Linked DNA regions of Homo sapiens. The protein of the gene in region 3 interacts with the protein of the main gene of each other region in a pairwise test. Each region holds a gene or a part of one and is shown on either strand. Other genes may lie near its edges.

Region 1 (7,871 bases), on a different chromosome or scaffold from region 3:
CCTTGGAGATAAGGGGGTTAGAGACACCAGTATCACCTCCCTGCTCTTCCTGCCTCCTCAAATTGTTTTCTCTTCTACTTCCCTTTTCATAAATTAGCTGTAATACTCCTGTTAGCAACTTTTAAAAACAGTAAAAAATTGTCTTTCTCGGCCGGGCGCGGTGGCTCACGCCTGTAATCCCAGCACTTTGGGAGGCCGAGGCGGGTGGATCATGAGGTCAGGAGATCGAGACCATCCTGGCTAACAAGGTGAAACCCCGTCTCTACTAAAAATACAAAAAAAAAATTAGCCGGGCACGGTGGCGGGCGCCTGTAGTCCCAGCTACTCGGGAGGCTGAGGCAGGAGAATGGCGTGAACCCGGGAAGCGGAGCTTGCAGTGAGCCGAGATTGCGCCACTGCAGTCCGCAGTCCCGCCTGGGCGACAGAGCGAGACTCCGTCTCAAAAAAAAAAAAAAAAAAAAAAAAAAAATTGTCTTTCTCATTATATAGGTATCAAAAGTGTTCAGAAACAAATATACAGCCTTTAAGTGGAAATAGAGCTATCTGGTACTATTTTTAAAAAATTCTAACCATCAAGAAACAAAAGTTCAGGATTTTCTTCTCTTATGGAACTTTTATTTGAAAGGAAAGTATAGAAAAGTTGGTCTCACTTTCCAGTGGACAAATTCACCATATCGTCCTGATCTGTACCATATGAATGTTAAGAATATAGATTAAGTTATCTTTTTCCTTGATTAAGGACACCAGTCAATTATATGGATTTCCCAGGACTGGTATATGTCTGATAGTCACTGGCATGGCTGTATCTGTTGTTAAATGTGGAGAGACTTCTGTATTGGGTAGTCCATAGCTGCTAATTGGAGCCCCAGGTAATCCCTGACTGACCTGGTTCATTCCGCTGTACCCCCTTGATCTGGCAACTAAAGGGTTAACAGCTGGAGGCTTCTGGGATCCAGCTTGAGCTGGTGGTTAAGTACACTGAACATCAGCCCTGGACCTCTGCAGTGCCACTTATTGTTCCTAAAATTCTAGATTAAGGCAAACCCTTTTTGGTTGTCAAGAACATAGTGCTGTCTCCAAGGAACAGCTTAGTCGGTCCCACCAGAAGCATCTGTTGGGAGCAGGTTGGGCACCAACCCTTGCAGGACTTTGGGATTTGGGACAATGTAGATTTGTGTGAGTGCACATTAAGTCTCATTGCAAAATAGAAAAAAAAAAGTTAGGAAAAAGGAGCAAGAAGTTATTCTTTTAAAGTAGAGACTGCCTTACTCATCGTAGCACCTAGCACCTGGCGTAATGCTGGCATATGGTATGCACATAATTAATATAAATTGAGCGAACGAATGCAGGAATGGGTGCATGCCTCCTGCTTCACCATCAGGATATTCTTGTTGGGATAATGGTAACTCACATTTATATAGCAGTTTAGACTTTACAATGTGGTGCTTTGCACCTTGTAAATTTCTAATATAATTCCAACATCCTTGGTTACTTCCAGTTTTCCGTCTCACATGTAGTCCTACACAAGGTTTTTTTCCAAAGGAGAATATGTAGTTAATTGGCCAAGAAATTGCAAGCTGGGGGAAAAATTATAAATACTGGGAAATAAAGGATTCTTCATAGGGAACGAAACAGGGTTTGTTAATGATTTATGGGAATTATGTGAAGGGCCACATTATGCATCAACAATACCCTCCAGCCTATATTTCAAGCACATGCAGTTTTTTGCCGCAGTGCTTCTGCTGCAAAGACCTACCCCCACTTCTCTTAGCCTGTCTGTCCCCACTCCATACCCCCGACCTTTCATCCAGCTGGCCTGTGCTTGCTAAAGCTCCCTTTATCCTTTCCCAGCTCCCTTTCCATGTTGGAGTAGGTTCCCCCCTTCCATGCTCTCATAGCACCCTGCAACCTTATTAGGCTGTAATTATTACATAGTTAGATTGATCTCCAACTAGATTGTCATCTCTTTGGTGGAGAGATTACGTTCTTGTGTATCTTCAGTGCCTGACACAGAAGTGTTTCTAAAAGTAACATCTGCACACCCCTCAAACAGAATCACAAGGGGCGAGGCCAAGAAATCTGCTCTCCAAGTGATAACTTAAACTTTTTAACATGCTCTTCAGGTGACACTTAAACTTGTTTGAAAACCTCTGTGTCATAAAACTAAATATTAGCTGGATGAATGTATTTGTATCTTTTTCTGTGTTGGCCTTTGTGAGGAGAAATGCTGTCTATGCACCAAATCAGAGCTGAAAAATTCTAGTGTTTTGTTAAAAAAAAAAAAGAGAGAGAGAGAGCTGGGTTTGGTGGTGCATGCCTGTAGTCCCAGCTACTTGGGAAGCTAAGCCAGGAGGACTGCTTGAGCACAGGAGTTCAAGTCCAGCCTGGGCAACATGGTAAGACCCCATTGCTAATAAATGAATAAATTTTTCTCTCAAGGTGAGAGATACTAGTACTAATACTACTACTAATAATGAGATCACTGTATGAATTCCTTTCTGTTTCTACATTAATCCCTTTCTGTTTCTGGGTGTGCATTTTTGTGTGTAGGCTTATCTGTCTTGGGCCTCTTTTGTCACATATTGCTCATCTGTGAGCTGAGGCCCTGACTCACTGAGTATTTTTGGGGAGCAGAAGAAGGAGACATTTCTCTCCGAAAATGAACTCAACAGGCCACCTTCAGGATGCCCCCAATGCCACCTCGCTCCATGTGCCTCACTCACAGGAAGGAAACAGCACCTCTCTCCAGGAGGGTCTTCAGGATCTCATCCACACAGCCACCTTGGTGACCTGTACTTTTCTACTGGCGGTCATCTTCTGCCTGGGTTCCTATGGCAACTTCATTGTCTTCTTGTCCTTCTTCGATCCAGCCTTCAGGAAATTCAGAACCAACTTTGATTTCATGATCCTGAACCTGTCCTTCTGTGACCTCTTCATTTGTGGAGTGACAGCCCCCATGTTCACCTTTGTGTTATTCTTCAGCTCAGCCAGTAGTATCCCGGATGCTTTCTGCTTCACTTTCCATCTCACCAGTTCAGGCTTCATCATCATGTCTCTGAAGACAGTGGCAGTGATCGCCCTGCACCGGCTCCGGATGGTGTTGGGGAAACAGCCTAATCGCACGGCCTCCTTTCCCTGCACCGTACTCCTCACCCTGCTTCTCTGGGCCACCAGTTTCACCCTTGCCACCTTGGCTACCTTGAAAACCAGCAAGTCCCACCTCTGTCTTCCCATGTCCAGTCTGATTGCTGGAAAAGGGAAAGCCATTTTGTCTCTCTATGTGGTCGACTTCACCTTCTGTGTTGCTGTGGTCTCTGTCTCTTACATCATGATTGCTCAGACCCTGCGGAAGAACGCTCAAGTCAGAAAGTGCCCCCCTGTAATCACAGTCGATGCTTCCAGACCACAGCCTTTCATGGGGGTCCCTGTGCAGGGAGGTGGAGATCCCATCCAGTGTGCCATGCCGGCTCTGTATAGGAACCAGAATTACAACAAACTGCAGCACGTTCAGACCCGTGGATATACCAAGAGTCCCAACCAACTGGTCACCCCTGCAGCAAGCCGACTCCAGCTCGTATCAGCCATCAACCTCTCCACTGCCAAGGATTCCAAAGCCGTGGTCACCTGTGTGATCATTGTGCTGTCAGTCCTGGTGTGCTGTCTTCCACTGGGGATTTCCTTGGTACAGGTGGTTCTCTCCAGCAATGGGAGCTTCATTCTTTACCAGTTTGAATTGTTTGGATTTACTCTTATATTTTTCAAGTCAGGATTAAACCCTTTTATATATTCTCGGAACAGTGCAGGGCTGAGAAGGAAAGTGCTCTGGTGCCTCCAATACATAGGCCTGGGTTTTTTCTGCTGCAAACAAAAGACTCGACTTCGAGCCATGGGAAAAGGGAACCTCGAAGTCAACAGAAACAAATCCTCCCATCATGAAACAAACTCTGCCTACATGTTATCTCCAAAGCCACAGAAGAAATTTGTGGACCAGGCTTGTGGCCCAAGTCATTCAAAAGAAAGTATGGTGAGTCCCAAGATCTCTGCTGGACATCAACACTGTGGTCAGAGCAGCTCGACCCCCATCAACACTCGGATTGAACCTTACTACAGCATCTATAACAGCAGCCCTTCCCAGGAGGAGAGCAGCCCATGTAACTTACAGCCAGTAAACTCTTTTGGATTTGCCAATTCATATATTGCCATGCATTATCACACCACTAATGACTTAGTGCAGGAATATGACAGCACTTCAGCCAAGCAGATTCCAGTCCCCTCCGTTTAAAGTCATGGAGGCTATAGGATCTTATGTAAACAGTTTTTGTTTCTGATAGTAATGGACTTTATTCTAACTTGAGATCAGTGGCGGATCAAAACCTACAAGATTCAACTGAAAAGTTGGCAGTTATGGTTTTCTTTCATCTGATGTGTCAGTATCTGTTGATTTGCTTTGTAGTTTGTTGACATCTTAAGATTTGATGTGAAAGTTTTAGATTTTTTACCCTGCTCTTTGCCTCAGTCTTTTGTACCGAGCCTTTAAATAGATGCCAGGAATGAAGCTACTGTGTTAAAGTAGAAAGTCAACCGATTATCATGATTTGAGTCAGTGTTATGTGACTTCAAAATAAGGTATTGACTGGATTTTTTTTAAAGAATGTGAAAATATGATTTTTGCTGAGGTGTTATTTTTATTAATTGAATTGTAAATTTTGATTTTTTGAAGTGTTGAAATCGGGAACACTACACCTTGTTGGTAGCAGGTTGATTTGAATAAATAATATATTGTTAGCTGGGTGCAGTGGCATGCACCTGTAGTCCTAGCTACTTGGGAGGCTGAGGCAGGAGGATCACTTGAGCCCGGGATTATGAGTCCAGCCTGGGCAACACAGCAAGACCCTGTCTCTAAAGGAAATGTATATATTCTTTTTTTTTTTTTTTTTTTTTTTTTTTTTTTGAGACGGAGTTTCACTCTTGTTGCCCAGGCTGGAGTGCAATGGCATGACCTCGGCTCACCGCAACCTCCACCTCCCGGGTTCAAGTGATTCTCCTGTCTCAGCCTCCCAAGTAGCTGGGATTACAGGCGCATGCCACCATGCCCGGCTAATTTTTGTATTTTTATTAGAGACAGGGTTTCTCTGTGTTGGTCAGGCTGGTCTTCAACTCCTGACCTTAGGTGATCCGCCTGCCTCGGCCTCCCAAAGTGCTGGGATTACAGGCATGAGCCACTGTGCTTAGCCAGAAATATATATATTCTTAAGGCAGAAAAGGTGATAACTCTGTCTTTACCAAAAACACTCACACAGGTATTAGGTACTTTTCTTTCATAGGACAGTCAACTAAGAATATAGTATTATGATTATTGCCATTTCTTATTATAGACATGTTTTATGTCAGTTGAGTAGGTTTACAATTCTTTTGAAAAGAAATATATTTGGGCCGGGCATGGTGGCTCACACCTGTAATCCCAGCACTTTGGGAGGCTGAGGCGGGTGGATCACCTGAGGGTCAGGAGTTCGAGACCAGCCTGGCCAACATGATGAAACCCCGTCTCTACTAAAAACACAAAAATTAGCAAGGCATGGTGGCAAGCACCTGTAATCCCAGCTACTCGGGAGGTTGAGGCAAGAGAATCGCTTGAACCTGGGAGACAGGTTGCAGTGAGCTGAGATCGTGCCATTGCACTCCAGCCTGGGTGACAAGAGCGAGATGTCATCTCAAAAAAATGAAAAAAAGAGAAAGAAAGAAAGAAAAGAAATATATTTTTGCTTGTTAAAAGTGAATTATTTATTTATTTATTTTTTTCCTGAGAGGGAGTCTTGCTCTGTTGCCCAGGCTGGAGTGCAGTGGCATGATCTCTGCTCACTGCAACCTGCGCCTCCCGGGCTCAAGTGATTCTCCTGCCTCAGCCTCCTGAGTAGCTGGGATTACAGGCGTGTGCCACCATGCCCAGCTCATTTTTGTATTTTTTAGTAGAGACAGGTCTTGAACTTGTCTTGAACTCCTGACCTCAGGTGATCTGCCTGCCTCGGCCTCCCGAAGTGCTGGGATTACAGGCATGAGCCACCCCAACTGGCCCAAAAGTGAATTGTTTCTGAATGATCTTATTCAAGAAGCCTAGTGAAGAGGACTGCATCTATGGTAGAGGTGCACTGTTCCCAGGAGAGAAGGCACTGCGGTAATCATCTCGGTGTTCTGTGGAAAACAGTGTGGACTCCTGTCATGCATTGGGCAATATTTATTATTGCTTAACAAGGTTTACAGATAAGACTGGGAATGTTTTGATTTATGTTTTCCTTCTGTGTGAGAAGAGTTTACTAACCACCTGACAGTATTCAAGTAACTATTTAGAAATGACTTCTTTTTTGTCTTTATTTATTATTATGGTAGAAAAATTCTCAAGATAATCTATTTTCAAACTAATCATTTTATTTCTCTCCCATTAATCTTAAAGTGGAAATGGGCAGAAAGAAAAAATAGATTTAAGTATTTCTATACCTGAAACTAATTTTACTATATGCTCTGAGATTCCTAGCATAACAACTGTGAACTCATATTTTATTGTAAAAATATTTTCAGTATACAGTTAGTATTTGAACTCACTAGGTTTTTAAATGTTAGACACACAAGATGAGCATCAATATACAACACCTATCTTTATAAATTGTTATATTCAAGAGTTATTATTGCAGATTGGAAGGTACTTTGTTCCTTTGCGTAAAAGTCTTTTTTTTTTTTTGTAGAAACAGAGTCTTACTCTGTCACCCAGGCTAAAGTGCAGTGGCATGATCTCAGATCGCTGCAACCTCCGCTTCCCGGGTTCAAGCGATTGTCTTGCCTCAGCCTCCAGAGTAGCTGGGATTACAGGTGCCCGCCACCACTCCTGGCTAATTTTTGTATTTTTGGTAGAGACAGGGTTTCACCATGATAGCCAGGCTGGTCTTGAATTCCTGGCCTCAAGTAATCCACCCACCTCGGCCTCCCAAAGTGCTAGGATTACAGGCATGAGAAACCACATCCAGCTGAAAGGCATTTAATTTATAGTTTCCTCCCTCAGCTCTCCCCAAATACAGGGGTCATGAGAGGTATAGAGAAGACAGAATAGATATTCAATTAGAACTCTGCTCAACCTTATCTTATAACTGTTACCTTTCAGTATTGATCAGTTATTTCTATTTTTGAGATTTAAATAGGCATAGATTTTCTTTTGTTTTCTTTTTCTTCTAAATTTTTTTCTTGCCACACCCAGGGGCAGCCTCGAATTATTTTGTTTTTAAGTTCACCTTTTAGACTGATTTGCCTACCTACTCCCTCCTTCTTTCCCTTTCTCCCTCCCTCCTTCCCTTTTTCCCTTTTCTTTTTTTTAAGATGGAGTCTCATGCTTGTTGCCCAGGATGGAGTGCGGTGGCACAATCTCGGCTCACTGCAACCTCCGCCTCCCAGGTTCAAGCGATTCTCCTGTGTCAGCCTCCCGAGTAGCTGGGACTACAGGCACGCACCACCACTCCCAGCTAATTTTTGTATTTTTAATAGAGACAAGGTTTCACCAAGTTAGCCAGGCTGGTCTCAAACTTCTGACCTTGTGATCCACCCACCTCGGCCTACCTAAGTACTGGGATTACAGGCGTGAGCCAGTGCACTGGCCTATTATCTCTTTTTAACAAAGAATTAAGAAATCTAATATTCTTTCCCAAGATCGTACAAAGAATTGTGGCAAATTAGGAATTAGATTTTTGTCTTAATTCAAAACCTGGTATTTACCCCAGTGTGCCAAACAGCTTTATAATGAAGACAACATTAATCAAGCATCACATTTTTAAAGGCATATATCTATTTTTTTGGCTATGCAAAAAACCTTGTCTCTATTAAAAATACAA
Region 2 (7,871 bases), on a different chromosome or scaffold from region 3:
TCCTCCCTCAAACTTCTTGCCCTTAAATTAGAATTGAGAAGTCCCTGTGTGTTCTTCCAACCTTTCCACTTAAAATGTGTGGCCTAAAAATAAAAAAATAAATAAGACAAAAAAACCACCAAAAAACAAAAAGAATGTGTGGCCTAATGATATACACATTTGATGTTGAATCCTCCTGTATGTAGCTCTCTCTAGGGAGATCATGTTCCACGATCTCAGCCAGACTTTAGGTCCTGTGAGTCCAGGCACTGGACTCAACATGCTCAATAGGGCTTTGATGAATGATGATGATGTCAATGCAGACATCCCCATACCCCAGCTTCAGCACCCCCTTCACCTCCCCACACGGAAGCAGAGGGGTCCTCTTTTCCTTCTCCTGGCTATGTTTATGCCCTCAACTATCCTTCCAGCACTGGAGACAAGTCTCACCTGCACTAACCTGTCTTTGAAGGTCCTGGGGGCTGGAGGGGTCACAGGCCCTGAGCCAGCAGGCTGAGGTGATCGTTCGGCAGCTGCAAGAGCTGCGGCGGCTGGAGGAGGAGGTCCGGCTCCTGCGGGAGACCTCGCTGCAGCAGAAGATGAGGCTAGAGGCCCAGGCCATGGAGCTAGAGGCTCTGGCACGGGCGGAGAAGGCCGGCCGAGCTGAGGCTGAGGGCCTGCGTGCTGCTTTGGCTGGGGCTGAGGTTGTCCGGAAGAACTTGGAAGAGGGGAGCCAGCGGGAGCTGGAAGAGGTTCAGAGGCTGCACCAAGAGCAGGTGAATGCAGGGGTAGAAAGGATTCAAATTCATAACGGAGAGCTGGGCAGTAGCTTCCAAGCAAAGAACAGGTATTGCAGAAAAGACCCTCCATGAGTAGTGAGTAGTAGAGTGATGAGACCTTTGGTGAAAATAAACACACATGGCCTAGAAAGATGGAGAATTTGGGTACTTTTATCTTAATTCAGGTTGCACTTTTCCCCCAAGACTCAGGTGGCCTCCCACCACTTGAAGCCCTGCTTCCCTTTCTAGTAGGAAATAGTTTGCCTCCCTACTTTACTCCAGGTACCAATTCATCAGGGGTATTGTGGAGGGCAGTGAGGAAGGTGGGTATAAGGGGGCTATGGTGGACTGGGAGAGAGAGATTATTCAGTCCTCAAACTCAGTACTTACTCTTTGCCATCTCTAAGACTCAGTGACCAAATTAGCCTGAGTCCTGCCTTCGTGGATGGAACTGACAGCCTCGTGGGGGATATACACATCCACATTTAATTTAATCATAATTAATTGCAATCAGGAGGAATGCCTTGAAGGAGAAGGACTAGAAAGCACTAACTTAGTCTGGGGTTCAGGGAAGGCCACTGTAACCAGTTGACATGTCAAGGAAAGAAACCATAGCCCTGGGCGCAGTGGCTCACGCCTGTAATCCCAGCATTTTGGGAGGCCGAAGCAGGCAGATCACAAGGTCAGGAGTTCAAGACCAGCCTGGCCAACATGGCGAAACCCTGTCTCTACTAAAAATACAAAAATTCACCAGGCGTGGTGGTGCGCACCTGTAATCCCAGCTACTTGGGAGGCCGAGGCAGGAGAATCACTTGAACCTGGGCAGTGGAGGTTGCAGTGAGCCGAGACTGTGCCATTGCACTCCAGCCTGGGCGACAGAGCAAGACTCTGTCTCAAAAAATAAAATAAAAAAGGAACTGGGAGAAAACAAGGGAGAATTCCTTTATAACCTTGTAGTGGGCAAGGCCTTTCTACCTGTGAGTCAAAATCCAAAATCTAGAAGCCATAAAGGAAAAAATTGATCCATTGACTTTATAACATGAACATTAGGAATAGCCAAAAAGAAAAAAAAAAGCTATATTTATAGCTCAGATCACAAGAAAAGGGTAATATCCCTAATATAAAATGTGTGCCTAGAAATTGGTAAGGGAAAGACCAGCAATCCAATCAGAAAATGGACAAAGGAGATTTATGAAAGAAACTTAGAAACAAGAAGCTAGGCCAGGCACAGTGGCTCATGCCTGTAATCCCAGCACTTTGGGAGGCCGAGGTGGGCGGATCACTTGAGGCCAGGAGTTAAAGACCAACCTGGCCAACATGAAGAACTCTACAAAAAAATACAAAAATTAGCCGGGTATAGTCGTGGGCGCCTGTAATCCCCCAGCTTCTTGGGAGGCTGAGGCAGGAGAATTGCTTGAACCTGGGAGACAGAGGTTACAGTGAGCTGACATCACACTCCAGCCTGGGCAGCAGAGCGAGACTAAAAAAACAACAAGCTACCGTTTGTGCTGAATAGGAGTTGGCCAGTGAAGAGGCGTGTGAAGTCCAGTGGTAGCTGGAAGACACTTGGTGGGACAACAGGTGAAGGCGGGGACAGGAGGCCAGAAGGCTGGGGCACAGAGATGAGGGGCACTGAGTGTGCTGCAGAGCCCAGGGCCCAGGGCACAAGGCTTTGGCCACTTCAGAACTTGCTACTTTCCCATAAGAGCAATGAGCAGGCTGGGCACAGTGGCTCATACCTGTAATCCTAGCACTTTGGGAGGCCAAGGTGGAAGGATCATTTGAGCCCAGGAGTTTGAGACCAGCCTGGGCAACAAAGCGAGACCCCCATCTCTATTTTATGGAAGAAATTAGGGCTGGGCATGGTTGCTCACATGTGTAATCCTAGCACTTTGGGAAGCTGAGGCGGGTGGATCACTTGAGGTCAGGAGTTCGAGACCAGCCTGGCCAACATGGTAAAACCTCATCTCTACTAAAAATACAAAAATTAGCTGGGCGTGGTGGCTCATGCCTGTAATCTCAGCTACTCAGGAGGGTGAGGCAGGAGAATCGCTTGAACCTGGGAGGCAGCGTTTGCAGTGAGCTGAGATCGTGCCATTGCACTCCAGTCTAGGCAACAAAGTGAAACTCCATCTCCAAAAAAACAAACAAAAAAAAATTGTTTTTTCAAGTAATAAGCAACCGTTGAAAGGTTGTTTTTTTTTTTTTTTTGAGATGGAGTCTCGCTCTGTCGCCCAGGCTGGAGTGCAGTGGCGCGATCTTGGCTCACTGCCAGCTCCGCCTCCCGGGTTCAAGTCATTCTTCCGAGTAGCTGGGACTACAGGCGCCCGCCACCACGCCCAGCTAATTTTTTGTATTTTAATAGAGACGGGGTTTCACCATGTTAGCCAGGATGATCTCGATCTCCTGACCTTGTGATCCACCCACCTCGGCCTCCCAAAGTGCTGGAATTACAGGAATGAGCCACTGCGCCCGGCCTGTTGAAAGGTTTTAAGCAGGGAAATAACATGATTAGATTTGTATTTTATGTCTAAAAAATTTTGTCATTTATGTCCCCCAAATTAATTTTATTGTTGTATGGAGACAGGGCTAGAGGAGGCAGACCAGGAAGCAGGGTGGGCACTTTGCCCTCCTTTCCAGTCCATCCCATGACTCTTGGTGGCTCTGACACCCCTGCAACCCTTTGAGGTGCCATGAGCAAAAGACACAAAATTCCTCCTTTCCTGGAGCTTTCCTTCCAGTGTGGTCCGACAGATAGTAACACATACACATAAGCAAGATATGGTCAGTGCTAAGTGCTCAGGAGGACGTGAACAGCTGATGGGGCAGAGTAGGGTGGGGAGGGACGGTATTAGAGGGCCCAGTGAAGCCACCCTGAGGAGGGGCTATCGCCTGGGGTCTGTGGAGCAAGGAGGGGCCGCTGTCTGGTTCTCAGCAGACTCCCCGTGGCCGGAGCGGGGAGCAGTGGGAGAGCCTCCAGGGTGAGCTCAGGAGGTAGGCAGAGGCCGGGTCCCCTGGCCTGCAGGTGTGGAGAGACACCTGGGTTTTGTTGTGAATGCTGTGAGAAGCCACTGAGGGTTTGTAAAGACTAGTTAGGAGATGGTCGCTGTTGCCCAGGCAAAAGATGAGGGTTGGTGGCAGTGGAGACGGAGACAGAGAGGTGAAGATATGTTTTGGGGGAGATCGGACAAGAACTCCTGATGGGTTGTGGGGCAGCTGCGGAGAGTGAGTTGCCAGCTCTCCATTTGCTGTGCACAGTTGGCTGATTGGTTGGGTCATTCTCTAAGGTCACAGAAAGTGGGAGTGAAGGGAACAAGGAAGGCCTCCATGTGGGGTCGAGCCTCTGCTGAGCCCCCTCTTCTTTCCGCAGCTGTCCTCTTTGACACAGGCTCACGAGGAGGCTCTTTCCAGTTTGACCAGCAAGGCTGAGGGCTTGGAGAAGTCTCTGAGTAGTCTGGAAACCAGAAGAGCAGGGGAAGCCAAGGAGCTGGCCGAGGCTCAGAGGGAGGCCGAGCTGCTTCGGAAGCAGCTGAGGTAGGTGGGCGGACGCCGACGGGAGCCCAGCAATTAGTGATGTGGTGGATCTGCAGGGCGCCCCACTGATGGCTGTCCCATTCCCACCCCAACCCTAGCAAGACCCAGGAAGACTTGGAGGCTCAGGTGACCCTGGTTGAGAATCTAAGAAAATATGTTGGGGAACAAGTGCCTTCTGAGGTCCACAGCCAGACATGGGAACTGGAGCGACAGAAGCTTCTGGAAACCATGCAGGTGAGGGTGCAGGAATGTATCTGTGTGCAGACTTAGGGATCAGGTTGGGAGGCAAGCGTGGCCCTTGGAGGAGCGTGTAGAGCACAGCCTCCGGGAGAGAAGGTGGTACCTAAGGCGGCATGGAGGCCCTACAGAGGGGCTGCTTTCCTCTGCCCGCAGCACTTGCAGGAGGACCGGGACAGCCTGCATGCCACCGCGGAGCTGCTGCAGGTGCGGGTGCAGAGCCTCACACACATCCTCGCCCTGCAGGAGGAGGAGCTGACCAGGAAGGTACAGCCCAACCCCCAGACCCCTCACCCTCAGCCGCATCCTGCATCTACTGTCCCCTGCCTCCCTCCCTGTGGGCAGGAGGGGTCAATGTGCCCCAGAACCTGCTTAGATCTCCTTCCTGTGAACTCCTCTTGCTGTAGCTCATGTTGCCCAGGCAGGACAGAGGAGAAACAAAGATGCCACCTCCTTCCTCTCCTCCCCCAGGAGCCCACACTTTTCTCCCACTCCTTCTCCCTCAGGTTCAACCTTCAGATTCCCTGGAGCCTGAGTTTACCAGGAAGTGCCAGTCCCTGCTGAACCGCTGGCGGGAGAAGGTGTTTGCCCTCATGGTGCAGCTAAAGGCCCAGGAGCTGGAACACAGTGACTCTGTTAAGCAGCTGAAGGGACAGGTCACTGCACTCTCTTTTCTCCCGGTATTCCCTCCCAGCACCTTGCTCCTTCCATGAAGGTGGCATCCATTCAACCAGTGTTTATTGAGTGGTTGCCACATGCTGGGCACACAGCCCTGAACAAAACTAAAATGTGGAGCTTGCATTCTAGAACAGAGACACAGAACACGCAAGTAAACAGATAATGTTGGGTAATTATATGTGCGATAGAAAGATTGAAGCCAGGTGCAGTGGCTCACACCTATAATGCGATCACTTTGGTCTTGAACTCCTGACCTCAGGTGATTCACCTGCCTCAGCCTCCCAAAGTGATGGGATTACAGGTGTGAGCCACCGTGCCCAGTCAAGTAATGCCAACAGTTTGGGAGACCGAGGCAGGTGGATCACTGGAGGTCAGGAGTTCGAGACCAGCCTGGGCAACATGTGAAATCCCGTCTCTACTAAAAATACAAAAAATTAGCCGGTCATAGTGGCTCATTCCTGTAGTCCCAGCTACTCTGGAGGATGAGGTGGGAGGATCACCTGAGGCTGGGAGGTCGAGGCGAGGCCACAGTGAACTGTGATCCCATCACTGCACTCTAGCCTGGGTGACAAAGCGAGATCTTTTCTCAAAAAAAAAGAAAGTAGTAAGAAAAATTCAAAAGATAATGTGACGGAGAGACTGTGGGGTGAGTCAGCCTCAGGTAGGATGCTCAGAGACAGCCTCTCTGAGGAGGTGACAGCATCTGAGGAGAGTGGCATGGTCAGTTGGTGGGTCTTGTGGGGTGGGTCAAGGGCTATTCCCATCTTTGAGTGGGCACATGGAATGTGGAACATGGAACACTGGGCTCAGATTCCATCCTCAGAACCTAAGCTTCTGTCTCCCTGCGTGGCATTCATTCTTTTTCTTTTCTTTTTTTTTTTTTTTTTTTTTTGAGAAGGAGTCTTGTTCTTGTCACCAGGCTGGAGTGCAGTGGCCTGATCTCAGCTCACTGCAACCTCCGCCTCCCAGGTTCAAGTGATTCTCCTGCCTCAGCCTCCCGAGTAGCTGGGATTACAGGCACATGCCATCACGCTCAGCTAATTTTTGTATTTTTAGTAGAGACAGGCTTTCACCATGTTGGTCAGGCTGATCTTGAACCCCTGACCTCAAGTGATCCATCTGCCTCGGCCTCCCAAAGTGCTGGGATTACAGGTGTGAGCCACCGTGCTGCAACCCACCCCCGTCGCCCGCCCCCCCTCCCCCCAGCCCCTGCATGGCATTCTTACAGAGATCTCTGCACCTGCCACTTTGCTTCCAGTGCCCCCCTCATCTTTTAGCTCTAGAGGGCCCTGCCTAGCTCTCTCTCCTCCCCCAGGTGGCCTCACTCCAGGAAAAAGTGACATCCCAGAGCCAGGAGCAGGCCATCCTGCAGCGATCCCTGCAGGACAAAGCCGCAGAGGTGGAGGTGGAGCGTATGGGTGCCAAGGTTGGTGTCAGCCTACTAGAGACTCGGGGAGGGCAAGGGAGCCCCTGTTCCGGGGCTGCAGCCAGGACTTAGGGAGGGACCCTGTCCTTTGCTGCATCCTCCCCAGGGCCTGCAGTTGGAGCTGAGCCGTGCTCAGGAGGCCAGGCGTCGGTGGCAGCAGCAGACAGCCTCAGCCGAGGAGCAGCTGAGGCTTGTGGTCAATGCTGTCAGCAGGTATCAGGGATGGAGGGGTGGGTGGAGTAGTGTTTCTGCCACCTCAGGTTCCTGGGCACCTTGTTGCTGAGGATCCTCAGGCAAGAGGGGCTGGAAAGTGGCCACTGGAGGCTACAGGGCTGGGCAGATTTAGCTCTATCAATGTTCCTGTGTTCGTTTCTTTTCCTGGGGAAGCCCCTTCTGCATTCATACCTGATTGCTTGTTATGAATTTCCCGTTGCATGTTTGGCTGGAGGTGAGGCCTTGCTTCCTCCTGCAGTTCAGTCTAGTAATGGCTTGAGCTAAATAGAGCACCCGGGAGGATCTTTACTTGCAGTATTGTTCAAGGATGGAGAGTGTAGACACTTCATCTTCCTTTTTTTTTCTAAAATTTTACGGGCAATCCGTTTCACTGGAGAAAAATTTAGTCTATTTATTTATTTATTTTGAGACAAAGTCTCGCTCTGTCACCCAGGCTGGAGTGCAATGGCGCAATCTTGGCTCACTGCAACCTCACCTCCCTGGTTCAAGTGATTCTCCTGCCTCAGCCTCCCGAGTAGCTGGATTACAGGCATCCTCCACCAGTGTCCTCCACTACACCCGGCTAATTTTTGCATTTTTAGTAGGGACGGGGTTTCACCATGTTGGCCAGGCTGGTCTTGAACTCCTGACCTCAGGTGATCCACCCACCTCAGCCTCCCAAAGTGCTGGAATTATAGGTGTGAGCCACTGCACCTGGCCTAGTCTATTTATTTAAAGCTATATACTTACTTGCTTATTATATACTTAACTTGCTTACTATTCCATCTAAAATGTAAGCCAGTTAGTTTCCTTCTAAATCAATTGCCAGCCTTTGTCTCTCCTACCAACTTCCTAGTTGTTTCATTACCTACAATTGTTGTATGACCTTCAGAAAAACCTCTAAGAAAACAGCAAAGCTTCTTTGTGCTGGTGATGACTTCCCCTCAGCCTTAGACACTGAGGTACCCAAGGCAGGTAGTTCTTTTTTTTTTTTTTTTTTTTTTTGAGACAGAGTCTCGCACTGT
Region 3 (7,871 bases):
TTTGTTTATTTATAAATCACCTAGCAAATGGCCTAGTACATTCGTAGGCACCCAATCAATGGTAGTTGTGCTAACATGCAAAGGAGGAGAGGGATGGTGAAGCAGTCTGGATGCAGAAGCTTTCTACTGGCTTTTGTAGGACTGGGCCGAACTCTAGACACTTTCTGGCAGAAGGCTCTGCAGTCCCAGGTCACCTCCCCCACCAGTGAGTGTCAGTGTTAACCAGTACACTCTGGGTTGTTTTCAGAGGCTGCATAAGGAGCTACCGCTCAGCCTGGAGGAACTGGAGGATGTGTTTGATGCCCTGGATGCTGATGGCAATGGCTATCTGACCCCACAGGAGTTCACTACTGGATTTAGTAAGTTCTGATGGGTGCTGGGGACCTCAGGGTTATGGGTCTACCTAACACTGTATAAGGTGCATTCCTGTCCCTTGTAGACCTGGGGGGCAGGTAGTAAAGCTTTCCTGCCCTCCTTTCAGGGACCTGGAGCTCAAGGTCTCCAGGCTCTAGATTGCTTGGGCCTCCTCACATGCCCGTCTCAACTGCTTACATTGCCGCTTGCTCAGTGCCCACTGCACTGCCATTACCAAGCTCCCTCCCACTGGGACTGGCAAGGGAGATGGACGGAAGCTCTGCAGAAGCCATAGCATAAAAGGGGGAGCTGTGATGAGATTTGCAGCCTCTCCTTTTCTGCCTTCATAGAAAAATGGCCAAAAGGTGGGACAACTGGATGGCTCATTCCAACCCAAGTCTGGCTGAATTTTCCAGGTTGAGGGATAACAGCTATCAGAGGAATTTCTAGAAGGTTTGAACAGACTAGACATTCTCAAGGTAACCAGGAGGAAGAAGAATCGAGATCTATGAACAATATAAAGAAACCAGACACACTATCCTATCAGATACATCAAAAGCCATATATCTGCCTTATGTGTGGGGCCATATAATTTTCTTGTAAGTATCTGATGCCTTTCCTGACCTTCAGGAGCTTCTAATTGACTTGGGAGGATAAGACAGACTGCTGTAACACTGGACAGTATGAGTATGGAGGAAGTACACTGGAAACTGTTAAGGAGCTTGTAGATGTGAAGTCTAGTGATGCTAGCGGGAGGATGACTAGGATGACAATAGGAGCCTCTGCAGTCAGGGTGCTGGAATGCAGTGCAGGGAAAGGCCTTGTTGCTTAAAGAAGAAATCAACGGAGATGCGTTCTAAGCCAGATGTTAAGGGACTGAGAACCACAAAGGAGACACCGTATCCGTCTTACATTCTGCCATTCCCAGATTCTAGCATCACTGATGGGGTGTTTGTGGAAGTGGAAAAGTCACAGAATCTGGAACGTGTCCACGGACCCATGTCCATGGATCTTTGCTGGAGGGGCTTTCCCTTCCCTTTCCTTCTCTCAGATGAACCTTCAATGATTCCTGGCAGGTGAGAAAGCTGAGCTCTTCCTGGATGGGTATGGTCTAATTCGGATCCTTGTGCCCTGCACCCCCCAGGTCACTTCTTCTTCAGCCAGAATAACCCAAGTCAGGAAGATGCAGGTGAACAGGTGGCCCAGCGCCATGAAGAGAAGGTGTATCTGTCCAGAGGGGATGAGGATCTGGGCGACATGGGCGAAGATGAGGAAGCCCAGTTCCGGATGCTGATGGACAGACTTGGAGCCCAAAAGGTGTTGGAAGAGTAAGTGGTGACAGTGATTTGTAGAACGGAGACCAGCCTGGTAGGAACCTCTTCCTGTGTCCATTCAACAATTAACATTTGTTAACCATGTGGTGCTGGTCCCTGCACTGGAATGCAGTGCAGGTAAAGGCCCGCTGGTTCTGCCAGTGGGGGCCTGTCCTTTGTGATGACCTGGCTGTGTGTTGGGCTCTGTCTCTGCTGTTTACATTTTTTTTTCTTTAGGAATCATTCCTATTCTCCTTCTCTCCCACCCCCTCTACCTTCCTCACTCCTGGCCATGCATTATCCCCCAGTCCTTGGCTCAGCCTTGCTCCTCATGAGGCACTCACACATCAGAGGTCTGTACCATGCTCTCAGGGTTTTTCATGGAGTTCTCCCTAAGGCTTCCTATCACCATCAGCTCCCCAGCATCTTTACCTCTCCTGGGTCTCTAGAGCTACGGTGCCTCCCAGCTGCCCCAGCTGTGGGTGCCTTCCTGGCCAAAACCCATCATGTGGAAGCATTTGCACACGGTATCCTCGGCAAACCAGGCTTGTGCAGGAAGCCAAGGTGGGAAATGAAGCAGTTTTTAGCAGGCCACTACTTGGAAAATTGTAGATGGCTGAGATCTCAAACAAAACATAACTACCCCTCCACCATTTTTTTTCCTAAAATGTGCTTTGGAATAGACACAGGGATCTAAGCCCTGACATTGAAGTAAAGTAAAATAAAATAAGGAAAATGTGGTGTTACAGCTAGTAGAAACCAAACAGAGGGCCTGAAAAGCATGTAATACCTTCTGCCCCTTTAGCCTTTGCCTTTGGCCTTTTTGTTTTGGGGTCCTTAGGTCTTGGGTTAGATGTATGTTTCCTGTAGTGTGGGAATGCCCTACTGATTACAGCTGACATTTCCTGAGCTTGGGAAGAGAAGGGGCTAGGGTGGAAAATGATAAAAAGGAGACAAGAGAGAAGAGGCCTATATACGATTTGCAGGCCGAAGCTCTGTGAATTTTTCAGCAAACAATTTGGTAGACTGTGGCAGAACTGGGAAAGGCTGGCGAAAGTGTGTTCCAGGCAAGAAAGGGATAGGCAAGTGCCTGGGGAAGATCCTGGTGGGGGCGCTACACAGGAAGTGGAACTCAAGACCAGCAGCAGTAGCAGGTTTGCTGAAGGCCTGGAAGGGGCTGCAGCAGGTGTCGACCACAGAAGGTGTAGCTGGCAGGTGGAAGGGGCACAGGTGGGTGGGAAGCTCATTAGTCATACACCTGACCCAGCTTCTCCAAGGACAACAGGCCAGAGCACAGAGACCATTCCTGGTGACAGTGTGACACCTCCTCCTGGAGAAGGGGGAAGGAGAAGGCAGTGCAGGTGAGCTGAGGCACCGTAACGGAAGGAAGGGGCCTCTCTGCCCAGCCCTCACTGCAGGGTAGCAGCCTTACTGGCAAGGTTCTCAATTAGAGTCCACCAGACGTGACTCTGAGGACCTATAGTAAGGCAGTGCAGAACTGAGCCAAAATGAGATGTCCCGAAGAAGAGGAGGTTTTGTGGAGGTTTCAAGAGTGGTCTGTAAAAGATGATACACAGAAGATGGTGACCAGCCACTTCCATCCTCACTGAAGTGGGCTTAGATTGCAGCATGAGGGAAACATTCACGGCTGTGAGACCTCAGATAGGGAAATAGAAAAGGCTATGAATATTTGAGGGCTCTTTAAAGATTTTGCTCACCAAAATGATTTGTGTGTTGTTCTGGAAGCAGTGAAATGGATTGATAAACCTCCCAGAATCCTTTCTAGCCTATACTCCCATATCCTCCCAGGAGGGGTGGCCTTGGTGTGTTCTAGAAGTTCGAGACTGGGCATCTGCACTTTGACTTTTCTTGGTGGTCCGATTGGCTAAGCGATTTGGCAGCTTAGTGAGCTTTGGCTTGTTTTTCATCAAAAGTTGAAAGACTTGTCCCTTCTCCAGAAATCTGGGGCAAGTTGTTGTTGCCATGACTAAGTAGTTCAAAGAGTGTTGGAAGAGGAGCAGGTGGGTCTGCAAATCTCACTGGGGACTTGAGCTCAGTTGGCTCCATCAGGAACCTGGCAGGTGTGGACAGACAGACCTGGGCTGGCAAGGTGAACCTTGATTTTACAATGCATTTACTTCATGGTGGCGTGTCTCAGTCCATTTGGTTTGCTGTAATACCTGCCATAGATGTGGTACTTTATATAAATAACCAAAATTTATTTCTGGCAGTTCTGGAAGCTAGGAAGTTCAAGATCAAGGTGCCAGCAGATTTGCTCTCTGATGAGGTCACATTCCCTCATTCACAGACAGTTGTCTTCTCACTGTGTCCTCATATGGCAGGAAGGGTGAATGAGCTTCCTCTGGCCTCTTTTATAAGGGCACTAGTGCCATTCGTGAGGGCTCTGCCTTCATGATCTAATCACCTCTCAAAGTCCTCATCTTCTGGCACCATCATGTTGGGGTTAGGATTTAAACATATGAATTTGTAGGAGATATAAACATTCACACCACAGCAGGGAACAACCTATAACAGGGATGGGAGGTCACCATGGTGTCTCTCTGAGACCCTCTTATCTCTGAACCCTTTGCCACATCTAAATTTTACCTATAGGATGAAATAAGACCCCCACAACATGCTGTGTGTGTGTTGTGGGGCTGGGAGGAATGGAACTCATTCTGAGAAACAGAGAGGTTCCTTACCTCCTTTTCTCCCATTTCCCAGATTCACCCATGACATCCAGTACAGTGCAAGGTTTACAACAGATCATAATAAATACTTGTTGAGTTAATAAGGAAATGGGTGGGTGGATGGATGGATGGATGGATGGTCTAAATAAGTACGCGGATGTTTGGATGGGATAGAAGAAAGAATTGGTGGAAGTGATGGAGCAAGGAAAGGAGGGAGAGAGGGATGAAGTGTTAGAGATGACCAGATAACTGATCAGAGGTGGGCCTATTTCTCAGTGGTCCTCTTCTCTGCTGGGTGCAGAGAGTCATGTCCATTTCCCAAGAGCGTTGCTAGCATGGCACTATTGAATATCCCTTCTGAATAAGGTTTCTAAAATATAATGCTTAATAACGCAAGCACAAAGGATTTTATTCCTTCTCCTGAGGGTTCCTTGTCAGAGCTATCCTCAGATCTTCTGTTTCTGGAATTTAATGGAAGACAAGTCACATTTACGTTTCTGTTTTTGTGGTTTTTGTCTTAAAGTGATTTATTAGTGAGGTACTCCCAGAAGAAACTGGCAAGGGATTTGGGGAAGTGGGACAGGGAAAGGAAGTAAAACAAATAATGGCGTAATTTTAGGAAGAGTCCTGGTTCTCCAGGGGTATTATTTATGTAGTCATAATAGTATAAACATTTATTTAATATCATATTTGGGAGTTAGCATACAGAGTTTTAAAACAATACTAATTATAGAACACAGTGTCAATGGCACTAGTCCCATTTGTGAGGGCTCTGCCTTCATGATCTAATCACCTCTCAAAGGCCTCACCTACTGATGCCATCATGTTGGGGGTTAGGATTTAAACATATGAATTTGTAGGAGATATAAACATTCACACCACAGCAGGGAGCAAGCTGCCACAGGGATGGGAGGTCACCACCCATTTCTCAGTGGGCCTCTTCTCTGCAGGGTGCAGAGAGTAATGTCTATACCACAGGGGCATTGCTAGCATGACACTAACAAATATCACTTCCGAAGAAAATTTCTAAAATATAATGCTTGTTATACAAGCACAGATAATTTTATTCTTTATCCTGAGGATTCCTGGGGAGCCAACAGGAATCTGTTGGTGGCAGATTGTCAAGGTGCAGATGACTGTAATGGACAAGCAAATTTTGGAAAGAGCTCAAGAGAAGTATAGGCATACAGATAACTTTATCCTCATAAAACGAGGGTCATAAGCGATTTTCCATAATCAGGTTAAATTAATTAAATGTGAAATATACATTACATAAAGTCTCAAAGTTTAACAGAGTAAAAAATCAAAATGTAATTATGTTGAAAGGATGGAAGGAGGTGAAGGACTTATATTTTCAATAGCTGGAAACTTGAAAGATTAAGACACAGAGTGAATATTTAAGTAACAAAAGACTTTGAGAAGACAATGAACTGAGCTAGTTATTACATCTTGTTATATAGATGTGAAAAAAGTGTTGGAAAATACATATGTGCCCATTAATTTAAAAAAATCAAAAGCCTGATTGTTTGCGGGATAAGATTTATATTTATTCTCTACTTTGCTAGAATAAAGTTTAATTGATAATTTATAATAAACTAGCCTGTGAAATTTCACTTGAACTCTACTGTTTATTATTATATAACTTTCAAACTTGATGCTATAACACTCTACTGTCTGCTAGCTGTGAGAAATTATTAACTTTTATTGAATTAAAACCTATCCTCTTTCAGATTTATGTTTAACTTAGCTTGATCATTGGCCACAGATTTTTTAGTTTCCCCAGAAAGGGAGAACAGGGTCCACCATGTGTGTCTCCTCCTCATTCCCTCCCTGGGTGTCAGCCTGAGCCCCTGTATCTCTGTCACTGAGCTGTGTACACACGTGCCTCTGTGCCTTTGTCTATTGGCCTCTGGGTCTCCCAAGTCTCTCTCGCCTTGTCTTTCTGTGTGTGCGCATCTTTCAGACTTGCTCCTTCCCTTCTTTTTGCCTGTCAGTCATCCCTAGTGCCACTAGGCCACAGTGGGGTGCTGCATATTCTCTTCCCTTCCTGCAGTGACAATTGCTTTCTGCCATCCATCACATGGCACGTCTTTACCTCTCAGCAGTGAGGACCATCCTTCCTGGGGGCAACGAGCTCTCTGCTTTAGCTCCATAGTGTGTGTCCTTAAACGCACTGGGCTCCTGTCCTCCTGTCTTCTTCCTGGCATTTGGAGATGCACCAGAGCATGTTGCTGTGCACGCCCAGCCCCACGAGCCCGTCGTGAAGGCCACGGGAGAACAGAAGCAGCAGAGCGAGGTGGGGAAGGAGGCCAACACCGGAGTCAGACAGCCCTGAGCTGGACCCCTGACTCCATCAGTGACTGCTGGGTGATCTTAGACAGCTCACTCCACCTCTCTTCACCTGCTTCGTCATCTGTAAATGGGGTAATTGCAGCTCCTGCCTTGTAGGGTTATTGTGAGGACGAAATGAGCTGATATCCTTGAAGCTCCTCACATGCAGCAAGCATTCGGTCCACGTTAGCTACTGTCATCTTTATAATGATTCTGACGGTACTGTTTCTGGCTGTCAGTTTCCTGTCTGGGAACCTCTGTATTTCCCGTGAAGCCTCATCTCCACACTTCCACATGAGCGTCCCTTCTCTTGCAGTGAAAGTGATGTCAAGCAGCTCTGGTTGCAGCTGAAGAAGGAGGAACCTCATTTACTGTCCAACTTTGAAGACTTCCTGACCAGAATCATCTCCCAGCTCCAAGAAGCCCATGAGGAGAAGAATGAACTGGAGTGTGCCCTAAAAAGGTGGGTACCCCAGTGTCAGCCGCTTTCTGTAACTATGTGTGAAAAAGAGAGACACACGGTGCACTTTCTCTTAGATCTTCTGCCAAAACATCGTGCAATGCCTCCTTTTGCTGTCTGCCAAAGTGGGGACCAGGCCCTGTGTCTGTCACGATATATGTATTTTTAAGCTCTCCGTCACCTTTTTAAGCTATATGGTAGGCACTATTCTAAATACTTTTTATACACTAGCTTATTTAGTTCTCACCACAACGCTTTGAAGGAGGGACTGGTTATCATTTTGCACATTTATTATCTGCACATTTTGCAGGCGGAGGGTTGGAAACCCAGAAAGGTTAAGTAGTACACCCCAGAAGGCATAGCTTGTGAACAGTAGAGCCAGGACTGGGAGTGAGCTAGCCAGGTGCCTGTGACCAGAAGAAAAATCACTCTGCTTGCCTCCAGGCAGTAAGACCCCAGCATACTGGGCCATCCCCCAGGGCCAGATCAGCCCACTTTGCAGAGGTGGCGTGTTTGGTAAGGTGACCTATAGCCCTGCTGAATGTCCCTCCTCCTGGCCGCTCTCTCCCGTCACGGCCTCATGTCTCTTCGTCTACCCTATTTGCCTCCAAGACCTCTCCAGGAGACAGGACCAAGCATTGTTAGAAACAACCCAGAGTCCTCCTCACTCACAGCCCTGAAGAAGCTGCTGAAGAACTGAACCAGAGTCAGAACAGGCAGGTA

Evidence for each region.
Region 1: the proteins of CRACR2A (region 3) and GPR75-ASB3 interact in binary tests that used the Homo sapiens proteins (3 or more experiments, as listed by UniProt).
Region 2: the proteins of CRACR2A (region 3) and CCHCR1 interact in binary tests that used the Homo sapiens proteins (3 or more experiments, as listed by UniProt).

What each region holds. Positions count from the first base shown.
Region 1 is NC_000002.12:53,849,545-53,857,415, reverse strand, and holds part of GPR75-ASB3 (GPR75-ASB3 protein), read left to right. Parts: intron 1-2,550; exon of another isoform or gene 2,551-2,659; coding exon of another isoform or gene 2,660-4,282; exon of another isoform or gene 4,283-4,504; intron 4,505-7,871. Other genes in the region: GPR75 (probable G-protein coupled receptor 75), read left to right, coding at 2,660-4,282. UniProt on the Homo sapiens protein: Probable substrate-recognition component of a SCF-like ECS (Elongin-Cullin-SOCS-box protein) E3 ubiquitin-protein ligase complex which mediates the ubiquitination and subsequent proteasomal degradation of target proteins. Recognizes TNFRSF1B.
Region 2 is NC_000006.12:31,147,380-31,155,250, reverse strand, and holds part of CCHCR1 (coiled-coil alpha-helical rod protein 1), read left to right. Parts: intron 1-451; coding exon 452-755; intron 756-4,128; coding exon 4,129-4,292; intron 4,293-4,390; coding exon 4,391-4,526; intron 4,527-4,685; coding exon 4,686-4,796; intron 4,797-5,035; coding exon 5,036-5,185; intron 5,186-6,522; coding exon 6,523-6,633; intron 6,634-6,739; coding exon 6,740-6,846; intron 6,847-7,871. UniProt on the Homo sapiens protein: May be a regulator of keratinocyte proliferation or differentiation.
Region 3 is NC_000012.12:3,672,726-3,680,596, reverse strand, and holds part of CRACR2A (EF-hand calcium-binding domain-containing protein 4B), read left to right. Parts: intron 1-247; coding exon 248-359; intron 360-1,498; coding exon 1,499-1,682; intron 1,683-7,004; coding exon 7,005-7,151; intron 7,152-7,779; exon of another isoform or gene 7,780-7,868; intron 7,869-7,871.